Homo sapiens: one gene and its partners. The protein of the gene in region 1 interacts with the protein of each later gene in a pairwise test. Each region holds a gene or a part of one and is shown on either strand. Other genes may lie near its edges.

The links.
Region 2: the proteins of BPIFA1 (region 1) and PPIH interact in binary tests that used the Homo sapiens proteins (3 or more experiments, as listed by UniProt).
Region 3: the proteins of BPIFA1 (region 1) and TIAL1 interact in binary tests that used the Homo sapiens proteins (3 or more experiments, as listed by UniProt).

The regions. Positions count from the first base shown.
Region 1 is NC_000020.11:33,234,376-33,238,127, reverse strand, and holds the start of BPIFA1 (BPI fold-containing family A member 1 precursor), read right to left. Parts: upstream 2,133-3,752; 5' UTR 2,078-2,132; intron 432-2,077; 5' UTR 417-431; coding exon 257-416; intron 74-256; coding exon 1-73.
Region 2 is NC_000001.11:42,671,832-42,675,483, forward strand, and holds part of PPIH (peptidyl-prolyl cis-trans isomerase H), read left to right. Parts: intron 1-3,456; exon of another isoform or gene 3,457-3,617; intron 3,618-3,652. UniProt on the Homo sapiens protein: PPIase that catalyzes the cis-trans isomerization of proline imidic peptide bonds in oligopeptides and may therefore assist protein folding. Participates in pre-mRNA splicing.
Region 3 is NC_000010.11:119,576,373-119,580,024, reverse strand, and holds part of TIAL1 (nucleolysin TIAR), read left to right. Parts: intron 1-14; coding exon 15-90; intron 91-1,190; coding exon 1,191-1,299; intron 1,300-2,288; coding exon 2,289-2,384; intron 2,385-2,489; coding exon 2,490-2,574; intron 2,575-2,821; coding exon 2,822-2,945; exon of another isoform or gene 2,946-3,119; coding exon of another isoform or gene 3,120-3,137; exon of another isoform or gene 3,138-3,274; coding exon 3,275-3,414; intron 3,415-3,652. UniProt on the Homo sapiens protein: RNA-binding protein involved in alternative pre-RNA splicing and in cytoplasmic stress granules formation. Shows a preference for uridine-rich RNAs.

The DNA of each region.
Region 1 (3,752 bases):
TTCAGGATGTCCAGGAGCGGAAGGTTTTCCAGAATGCCCAACAGGCCCCCAGACAGCAGGCCATTGCTGAGGGCTGGAAATGGGTGTAAGGGTCTCTGGGGGTCAGATCTGACAATTCCAGATCCTCAGGCCCCCTCCCCCATCCAGCCCTGTCCCTCCCCACTTTGCAGGGTTGGACACACACACACACACACACACACACACACACACACACACACACACACACACATGCACACATACACCCCTGAAAACTCACCATTTGTCAAGCTTCCTGCAAGACCTGTGGGACTCAAGGGCAGGGCTGGATTCACATTCAAGGGCAGGGTCTGGTCCAGGGGCACGGGCAGGCCTCCAAACTGGGCCATGGTCTGGGCTAACAGCCCGTAGAAGACAATGAGGCCCCCAGTTTGAAACATCTTTGCTCTTAGTATCTGTGGCCAGAATGACAAGTCCAACATGGCATGGGTATCAGAGAGGAATTTATCCACCACCTGCCCTGACACCTGGGGGGTGGGGTTGTTTGCTCCCCAGAACACCAGGGGGTCACTAGTAATAGCTAATACTGCTGAACAATTTCTCTTTGCCAGGCAACAGGCTGACCACTTTACACAATTTCATCTTCATCACAACCCTAAGACATGGGCACCTGTTACCTGCATTGCACAGGTGAGGACCACTGATCAGGGGCCTAAAAAGGAGACAGCCCCACTCCACCACATTCCAAAGAAGAGGGTTTTTTTCCTTCTTGCCAAGAATCCCAGCCTCACCTCACTCCATCTTGCCCACAGTTCACTTGTCTGATTTTCCAGTAGGAGAAACCAAGGCTCACAGAGGTCAAGTGAGTTTGCAGTTGGGAGTTTCAAATATACTCCCATCCCTTCTTGAAACCCACTTGTGTACTACCGAGTGTGGGTAACTTTCCCCAAGGTCACAAGTACACGGTGGACAGAGGATTAGAAGCTAGAGCCAGGTGAACCCTCGGTTAAATTAAGTAACCATCAGATTTATTCTCCAATCGGGCTTGCTTCAATGGTTTGAATCATTGCTGCTCTTCAGACAAAGCAAATGAGAAGGGTTAAACGTGCAAGTGCTGAAGAATTGAACTGTTTTAGATCATCCCTGTTCAGTCCTTTGGCCTGAGCTCAGGCCATGATGGTTGGTGGATGCCCTTGAAAGTCACACAATACAGGGGTCGCATGGCCACAGCCACCATCTCATGTAGACCTTTGTTGGGGAATTCCTGGGGCCATCAAAGTCTTCATTGCATGAGAAGAACCAGGAGACCAAAGAGGGGTAGTGACTTTCCCAAGGTCATACAATAAATTGATGGCAGAGCTGTGGTTGAAGGCAGGTCTCCCAACCCTCCCCTCACCCAACACACAAACATGCATTCTATCATTTTGACACCTTTCTCTTCTCCTTCAAGCTGCCCTGGATGGAATTCCGGTCAACCCCTGAGGTTTGGCTTGCAGACCTCTCACAGGTCTATTTGGCAGCCAGCAGAGTTGTCCAGAGCCAGCACTAGTACCTACAATTTGGAGACAACTGGTGACTTTGTGCAAAATTCCATCTATTGGCTGACTCAGCTAAAGCTCCATCCTTGTGGTGGAAGGCTGGAAATGAAAGGTCTTTGGTCCAAAGAGCCAGTTGTGCCCTTCTTAGGGAGGTAACTTTGACCACAGCCTCTGAATCTCTTTTGGGCAACAGACCCTTTATGAATCCAATGGAAGCTAAAGATCCTAGTCTCAGAAAAAATGCATCAAAATGTATAAAATTGGGTGAAGAATTTTAGGAGGTTTTTGGATCATCTGTATCCACATTGGTAACCTCAAGCTAAAACTTATGCCTTAGAGGCTTTCATTTACGGCATTAATAGTGCCCATTTCTATATCAATGTTACTGGTCTCTTAGGACAGCAGAGCAAATGGCCATCCCCACATCCCTGACATTGGCCAGGTCTGTTTCTCTTGCACAGCCCCCAGTGAGTGATCAAGATCACTCACTGCCCCACAGGGCAGGAGCCTGAGATCCCTGCCGTTAAGGGTAGCAGAGGGGCCACAGAATGGATGGCTCTTACCTGGACTTCTTAGAGGTCTCAGCAGCTGTCCTGGTCTCCTCTCTCTCCCCCACTCACTTCTGCCGAGGAGTCAGCCTCTTTTATAGTATGGGGACGAGGAAGCATGTGTTGGGTGATGGGTTTCTAGATAATTGAGAATTCTGCAATCTGACAGTGTCTTTCAGGGCTCTCCAAAGTAAATAATTGCCAATCACATTAGCAGGTGAGACAGTTAAGCTATTTGGTCAACAAGATAAACAGAGAAAAACCTGAGATGGGATGTTACTCAAGACTTTATGGTTTCCTGAGCGGAGCCAAGGTTGGGGACCCACGCTCCCAAGGTAGCTTGGAGCATTGAAAGGAGCAGCCAGACAGAGCCCAGGAAGGGACCTCAGTCTCATCTCTTGGCCCCTTTCCTCTCCTGCTCTAATTTTTTTGCTCCAGTTGGAGGATTCTTTCTCCTAAAATGTCAAAAGAGTCACACTGCATCCTACATCTGGGGTGCGTCTCCATTCCAGGGCAAGGGTCTCCTGTTTTCAGAGCCCCTATTGCACGTCAGGAGCTCTCTGTCCTCACAAGAACCCTGAGAGGGAGAGGTGACTCCTCCTCTTTTATAGAGGAGGAAACTGAGATCCAGTGGGGACAAGTGCTGAAAGACCCAGAGAGGATGCAGCAGAGTTAGAATGCAACTGACTGGAGAATGAAAACAACAAAAACAACGCCAACAGCAGACACTGGCCGAGCTCCTGCTGTATGCCTGGCCTGCCATGGTGTTCACAGGCAGCATCTCACAAAATCCTCACAACCCTGTACTCCTATTCTATAAGGGGGAAACTGAGGCTGAGTGTGAGGCAAGTTGTCCAGAGATGCAGTGCTTGCCTGGGGTGAGACATCCACATTCAGGTCCTTTCCCCGAATCACTGCACTGAGAGATGAAGGTGCCTCCCAACACTTGCTGGCCATTTTGATTTCCCCACCTGTGAACTTTACACTTTCATGCGTCCCTTTTTATTTTTTAAATTTTCACTTAATTTTTATTTTATTTTATTTTTTGAGACAGTCTTACTCTGTCGCCCAGGCTAGAGTGCAGTGGTGTGATCTCAGCTCATGACAACCTCCACCTCCCGGGTTCAAGTGATTCTCCTGCCTCAGCCTCCTGAGCAGCTGGGACTACAGGCGAGCGCCACCATGCCTGGCAAAGTTTTTGTATTTTTAGTAGAGATGGGGTTTCACCATGTTGGCCAGGCTGTCCTCGAACTCCTGACCTCAGGTGATCCACCTATCTCAGCCTCCCAAAGTGCTGGGATTACAGGCGTGAGCCACAGTGCCCCGCCGCTTCTCTTTTAGGTCCTGGAAAAGTCTTTCCAGGTTCCCAGGCCTGAGGGATCCTTTGGCATCCTGGTCTCTATCCTACCCTTTCTTCTACCTTTCCCTAAATGGAGTAATCAGGCATTTATTTATCCCCACCACTGGGGCCCTTGGAGTCTGTTCAGCAGATGAAAAAGTGAAGACACAGGAAGGCCAAGGTCCTGGACCAGTGAGCGCAGCTCTTACCCTGCAAAACCTAACACCTTATAAGCAAAAGTGGAGAGAGAAGGAATAAATGTGCTTTTATTAAGCACTGACTGCATGCCAGGTGCTCTCCATATTTGAACCTCATCTTCTTCAGGAGTGGTTGGTATTGTTGTCTCTCATA
Region 2 (3,652 bases), on another chromosome or scaffold:
GGAGGGAAGGGAAGTGGTATTTTTAAGCCCTATTGGGCAGTATTTCTTTCTTTCTTTTTTTTTTTTTTTCGAGACGGAGTCTTGCTCTGTCGCCCAGGCTAGAGTGCAGTGGCGCGATCTCGGCTCACTGCAGACTCTGCCTCCCAGGTTCAAGCAATTCTCCTGCCTCAGCCTCCCGAGTAGCTGGGATTACAGGTGCCCACCACCGCACCCAGCTAATTTTTGTATTTTTTAGTAGAGACAGGGTTTCACCATCTTGGCCAGGCTGGTCTCAAACTCCTGACCTCATGATCCATCCGCCTCGGACTCCCAAAGTGCTGGGATTACAGGCATAAGCCACCATGCCTGGCCGGGCAGTATTTCTTATACTTTAACGTTCATACGGATCTCCAGGAGATTTGTTATAAAATAGTGGTTCTGACTCAGTGGGTTTGGATGGGGACTGAGATTTTGCATTTCTAATCAGCTCTCAGGTGATGCTGATGCAGACTGTGAGGCAAGTCAATAGGGGATAAGAGTCTATCTTTTAATTGAGAACTTGCCATATTCCAAAAAAAAAAAGACCAAGAGGAAGTACTCTCTTGGTGGCACTAGTCCAGCAGGAATCCATTGCATTCACATCAAGGTATCACCTAATCCTGCATTTGAGGCCTTGTGCCCAGGCACTGGACATATGCAGTGAAACAGCTAAGAAGGAGATAGAAGACGGGTCACTTGATCAATTCTACCTCCCTATGGAGCACTTCTTTCCAGAACCTTTGTGTTTTGCCTTCCTAGGTTCTGACTTTGGTTTTAGTGAAAATGAAGTTTTGTGTACAATTTTTTTTTTTTTTAAGACAGAATCTCACTCCGTTGCCCAGGCTGGAGTGCAGTGGCACGATCTCAGCTCACTGCAACCTCCGCCTCCCAGGTTCAAGCGATTCTCATGCCTCAGCCTCCCGAATAGCAGGGATCACAGGCATGCTCCACCACGTCTGGCTAATTTTTTTGTATTTTTAGTAGAGACAGGGTTTCACCAAGTTAGCCAGGCTCGTCTCAAACTCCTGATCTCATGTGATCTGCCCGCCTTGACTTCCCAAAGTACTGGGATTACAGGCGTGAGCCACCATGCCTGGTCTGTACAACTTTAGTTATAGAAACCTTGGTTTTATCTCAGTGAGTTCTGGGAGAGTTTTTTTTTTTAGACAGGGTCTTACTCTGTCACCCAGGCTGGAGTGCAGTGGCGCAGTCACAGCTCACTGCAGCCTCGACCTCCCTGGCTCAAGTGTTCCTCCCACCTCAGCCTCCTTAGTAGGTGGGATTATAGGCGTGCAGCACCACACCCAGCTAACTTTTTAGAGATGGGGTTTCACCATGTTGTCCAGGCCGGTCTCAAACTCCTGGCTTCAAGCGATCTTCCCACCTCAGCCTCCCAAAGTGCTGGAATTACAGGCATGAACCACCGTGCCCAGCCCTTGGAAAACTTTTTATGATGAATTTGGTTATGTATAGCATAAATGAACCTCTACACTCAGGATTCTCCTGCTGTAGTCTGAATGGGTTGTTTGCTACTTACATGGACATGGGAGAGGGTGGCACCTCTCTTTTGAAAGCCCGAGTTCTGGCAGCTCTGCTAGTCTGATATGCTTACCCTCTTCCCTGTGATCCTCAAACCTGGTACCAGTACCAAATGGTAGAGAGCTTTCCTTAATTCATTGTTGCCTAGATTCTCCAACAGGTAATAATCATTTTGGGGCACTCGTTAAACCTACGAATTCCTAGATCCCTTCCCTGGAGTATTTGATTGAGTGGCTTTGGGGTGGGACCAGGATGTTATGTTTGTAACAAGTATCTCACATGCTTCTTAATAGAGAAGTGTGGGAAACACTACTTTAGTTAGTGGTGGGATGACTGTCTTTTATTTTAATATTTGGATCTTAGGAAAAAATACGGAATTAGCACAATACATCATTTTACAGTTATTACAGCTTATAGTGAGGCAATATTGAAGTTCAAATAGTGATTAGCTTAAAAAATAAATTGTACCTGTGGATGATAGATATTGTAACAGTTGTGAAGATGCTATTTGAATGACTAAGGTTTAGGAAACACTGTGTTTCATTCTAGAATTACCTATAGATGCGAGACATTCCCGTAGGGGAAGATTAGGAAATATGTGTTGGTGGCAGTTGGGCTGGTCCTCTATTCATTCCACAACTAAGCGCTGATGAATTAAGATAGTTCCCATGCTGCATATGAGGCTACAGATTTGAAAAGTCAGTTCCATCCTTCAAGGAACTCAGTCTCTTGGGAGAACTGACAATTACAGTACAATAAAGCCCTGTATTGGAGGTTTTAGAACAAGGTGAGGAAAGCATAAATGCCCGGATCTTCCCAGAGTGGTTGAGTAGACTACAGAAGAGATGATGCTTCAGTTTAGTACAAGAAAGAATATAACTTGTCAGGTGGCTAAAACTGGGCAGGGCATTCCAGGCAGAGGGAACAGCCTATGCAAAGTCACAAAGGCAGGAAACAGCAGGAAGTGTAGAGGAAGCTGCAAATAATTCAATATGACTGAAGCAGGAAGATATGAAAAGCAAATGGTGAGAAGGTTGGAGAGAGGCCAGGGCCAGTAGTGAAAGCCAGTGCCAAGTTTAGCAGTTCATATGTTATTCTGAGGGCAGAGGCTGACTTTCAGGCATGAAGTAATTTTTCCCTTTTGGGGAAGGAGTCCACTGTGCTCCTGAGATTCTCAAAAGGGGCACTGACCCTCCAAAAAAGAATCAGGCCAATATGAACCACTTAAGGATTTTCAGCAGAATACTGTAGATGAATTTTCATGTTCAGAAGATGATTCTAGCAGCATTGTGGAGGATGGGCTGGAGGCCAGTGAGGAGTCTACTGCAGTAGTAGTCCAGGCAAGAGAAAAGAGGTTTTACATGAAAATATGGGTCTGGGGAACACTGGAGATTTGGCAGCAAATATTTATGTGCCTGCTGGGCATGTGACACTGTATGTTCCCTGTCCTGAAACTCAGAAGCTCTGCCAGCTGAAAAGGCCAGGAGTGGAGAGAATGTCTGGCTCCAGTCCATTCCAGTCCAGTACAAAGGCAAAGCTGCTTGCATTGCAGCCAAGTCTTACACACGTAGAGGTTCCATTCTCTTCAGTGGAATACTATACAGCCTTAACAAAATAAAGAGGTAGATCTGGATGTGTTGGCAAGATTTCTAAGGTAAGTTAAGTGACAGTCAAGATGTAGTAATTTATGTAAGCATGTTACTGTTTATTTTGAATGACTTTCAGGAATCTCTGCAGTGATATATAGCAGACTGTGGATAATACTTCTGCAGAGTAGAGATAGCAAAGAGACTTTTCAGTTGCCTTATTTAAGCTTGAATTTTCTACCTTGAACATGTATCTTGTAATAGAAATACATACTGTTTATATGTAGTGTTAACTAATCCTAAATCCTCCCAGCACTTCCCAGGAGCCTGCCCACAGCTGTGGCTAACATCAGGTGTGAATCCATTGCTGATCCCTCCACCTCCTCTTCCAGGTCTAAGCCCAGACAGTGGGTGCTCCCACAGCACTTGGTTCATCTCTCCACTGTGGCATTTAATATACTGTATCACAAATATGTAAGTCTGTTTTTCTCTGGACTGAGAACTTGTTG
Region 3 (3,652 bases), on another chromosome or scaffold:
GCTTCTTTTCACAGGGATGCCCGGGTAGTTAAAGACATGGCAACTGGAAAATCCAAAGGCTATGGTTTTGTATCTTTTTATAACAAACTGGTACGTTCTTCCATCTCAATTTATATTTTTTAATACTAAATTTAGTCATTAGTTACTTAATGTATTGAATCTGAAACTTGAATATACTTGAATGTTAACTACAAACACAACTTTTATGTAATGTTATGTATGTTTTAATAATAGAGTATAATTTCATTCCTCTTTCATAAACTCGAAAATAAATAGCTAGAAAAAGAATGATTATACTATAAGGAAGATTATTAAAATTGTGTTTGTACATTGGTAAAGGTCAGATGGATTTAGAAGTAAAGCCCAAGTCTAGGACAGATGAGCTAATCTGAGAATTTAGAGGTTAGGTAAATTATATTCAGTTTTAACCATGAAAATCTCAGTTTTAACTCTACCTTTTAAATTATTATTCATACTCTTATATAACTGGGATGTGAATGACTACAACAAATTATGTAAATAAAAATTTAAGCAATTCATCTTGATTTTTGCATATATTCTTTGTAAAAGGGGTACCAAAGTAAGCATTTGCATTAACTGTAACATTAAATAATAAAGTGGGCTTTGATTTTAAAGCAGTTTCAATAACTTAAATCAATGTTTTGTTTTGTTTTGTTTTGTTTTTTTGAGATAGAGTCTCGCTCTGTTGCCCAGGCTGGAGTCCAGTGGTGCCATCTCAGCCCACTGCAACCTCCACCTCCCGGGTTCAAGCGATCGCGCTGCCTCAGCCTCCTGAGTAGCTGGGATTACAAGCATGTGCCACCACACCCAGCTCATTTTTATATTTTTGGTAGAGACATGGTTTCACTTGGGTTCGCCAGGCTAGTCTCAAACTTCTGATCTCAAGTGATCCTCCTGCCTTGGCCTCCCAAAGTGCTGGGATTACAGGTCATCTACATTTTATTGAAGTGGTAAGATAAAGGGCCAGAGTATTCTGTTTTTGCTTAGATTGAATCTCAAGTTCAAATCGTTTTCTAATTGGTAATAGTTCAGTTTCGTTTTGTTTAGGATATTTAGTAAATTCATCTACTGATTTGTATGGAACCAGCAGCGCCGATATTTTATTTCATCTTACAGAGTCTTATTTATCACTCTTTTCTTTGTGATTGTGCTTTCTTTTTTATCCATAGGATGCAGAAAATGCGATTGTGCATATGGGCGGTCAGTGGTTGGGTGGTCGTCAAATCCGAACCAATTGGGCCACTCGTAAACCACCTGCACCTAAAAGTACACAAGAAAGTAAGATATGTCCACTGTGTGTGTTAAAATTATATTCTTCACAAAATCATGTATCATGTATTCATCTAGTCTCAATTTCTAATTTATTTATGTAAGAGACAGGGTCTTGCTCTGTTGCCCAGGCTGGAGTGCGGTGGCATGATCTTAGCTCACTGTAGCCTGAAACTCCTGGGTATAAGTGATCCTTTCACCTCAGCCTCCTGAGTAACTGAGACTACAGGGACATGCCACCATGCCCAGCTAATTTGTAATTTTTTTATAGAGACAGGGTCTGGTTACGTTGTCCAGGCTGACGTAGTATTTAATTAGTGTTGCAAGACTCTAATTATTTCATTTTATATTTCATTATCTGAAAATAATTGGGCTGTGGTATAAGTATTTTTGGAGCTGTGAATCACCTGATTTTATAGATCAAGTCTGTGTCAAATCATAGCATCAAGAAAAATTATGTTTTCTCCTCCCATTGAGGCATATCTTTTTTTTTTTTTTTTTTTTTTTTTTGAGGTGGAGTCTCGCTCTGTCACCCAGGCTGGAGTACAGTGGTGCGATCTCAGTTCACTGCAACCTCCGCCTCGCAGGTTCAAGCGATTCTCCTGCCTCAGCCTCCTGAGTGGCTGGAATTACAGGCGTGTGCCACCACACCCAGCCAATTTTTGTATTTTTAGTAGAGACAGGGTTTCACCGTGTTGGTCAGGCTGGTCTCGAACTCGTGACCTCGTGATCCACCTGCCTCAGCCTCCCAAAGTGCTGGGATTACAGGCGTGAGCCACCGTGCCCTGCCTTAATTTTTGTATTTTTAGTAGAGACAGGATTTCGTCATGTTGGCCAGGCTGGTCTCGAACTCCTGACCTCAGGTGATCTGCCCACCTCAGCCTCCCAAAGTGCTGGGTGCCCGGCCTGAGGCATATCTTAATAGTATATAGTAATTAACAGAAGAGTTTCATAGTACAATATAACAGTCAACGTTTTTGTTTTGTTTCTGCATACAGACAACACTAAGCAGTTGAGATTTGAAGATGTAGTAAACCAGTCAAGTCCAAAAAATTGTACTGTGTACTGTGGAGGAATTGCGTCTGGGTTAACAGGTACAATGTTTGGTTTTCTAATCACCTCTGAGGAGCTTCATCACTGTTCATATGAATTTCATGATACACATCAGCCATGTTTTATTTGTATGTTTTGTTTTATAGATCAGCTTATGAGACAGACATTCTCACCATTTGGACAAATTATGGAAATAAGAGTTTTCCCAGAAAAGGGCTATTCATTTGTCAGGTAACACTCTACTTGAAATATCATTATTACTCTTATATTTGATTCATTCCTTTCACTTATGTTCTCCAGGGTATCAGTGTTTGTTATTTTAGTGCTTCTTTGCAGTATAGAAGTTTAAGCTACCTACCTAATGTACTTTAGAAAAAAAATACCAACTTGCAGGTGTAAACTGATGAGTTTCCATGTTATTTATTGTGTTAGGTTCTTAAAAAATAAAAGACAAAACCATATCATTTTTCTTTCTTAGATTTTCAACCCATGAAAGTGCAGCCCATGCCATTGTTTCGGTGAACGGTACTACGATTGAAGGACATGTGGTTAAATGCTATTGGGGTAAAGAATCTCCTGATATGACTAAAAACTTCCAACAGGTAATTCGATTTTTCATAGCATTCTTTAAGGTTTCCATCTTACATGTCACATAAAAGCTTTGGAAACTCTGTAAAATGAACAATAAAATAAAGCATATAGCTACTTTCAGTTGATTGTATTTCAAAATTGATTATTTGCGGTATTAACTGAATCTTAATACTTTCTTTTCACAGGTGTCACCACCCCAATAAACTTAGACAATGATAAATAACAGAGTCCTATTCACATAAGGGTGCTTACTTAGTTTTTCTCTTCCTTGTCTCCCACTCTTTCTTCATATACGGTGTTTCTTATGTGTTCCCTAAAACAATACTTTGCTTTTTCCTAGGTTGACTATAGTCAATGGGGCCAATGGAGCCAAGTGTATGGAAACCCACAACAGTATGGACAGTATATGGCAAATGGGTGGCAAGTACCGCCTTATGGAGTATACGGGCAACCATGGAATCAACAAGGATTTGGAGTAGAGTAAGTTGTTTGGGTTTTTCCAGTATAGAAACGTATGGTTCTGACAAAATAAATAAAAGTGTGTTTTCCTAGGGAGAATCTATTTTAATTATATACATTGAGCTATTTGGCATTATGAGCATTATAGAAACTAATCTAACAAAATATGATTTATGAGGCTAAGAAATTACTTCTCATTACCTAGGTGGAAAGGGGGGATTGGGGTAACATTTAGTGTGTCCTATGATCCCTGTAAGCA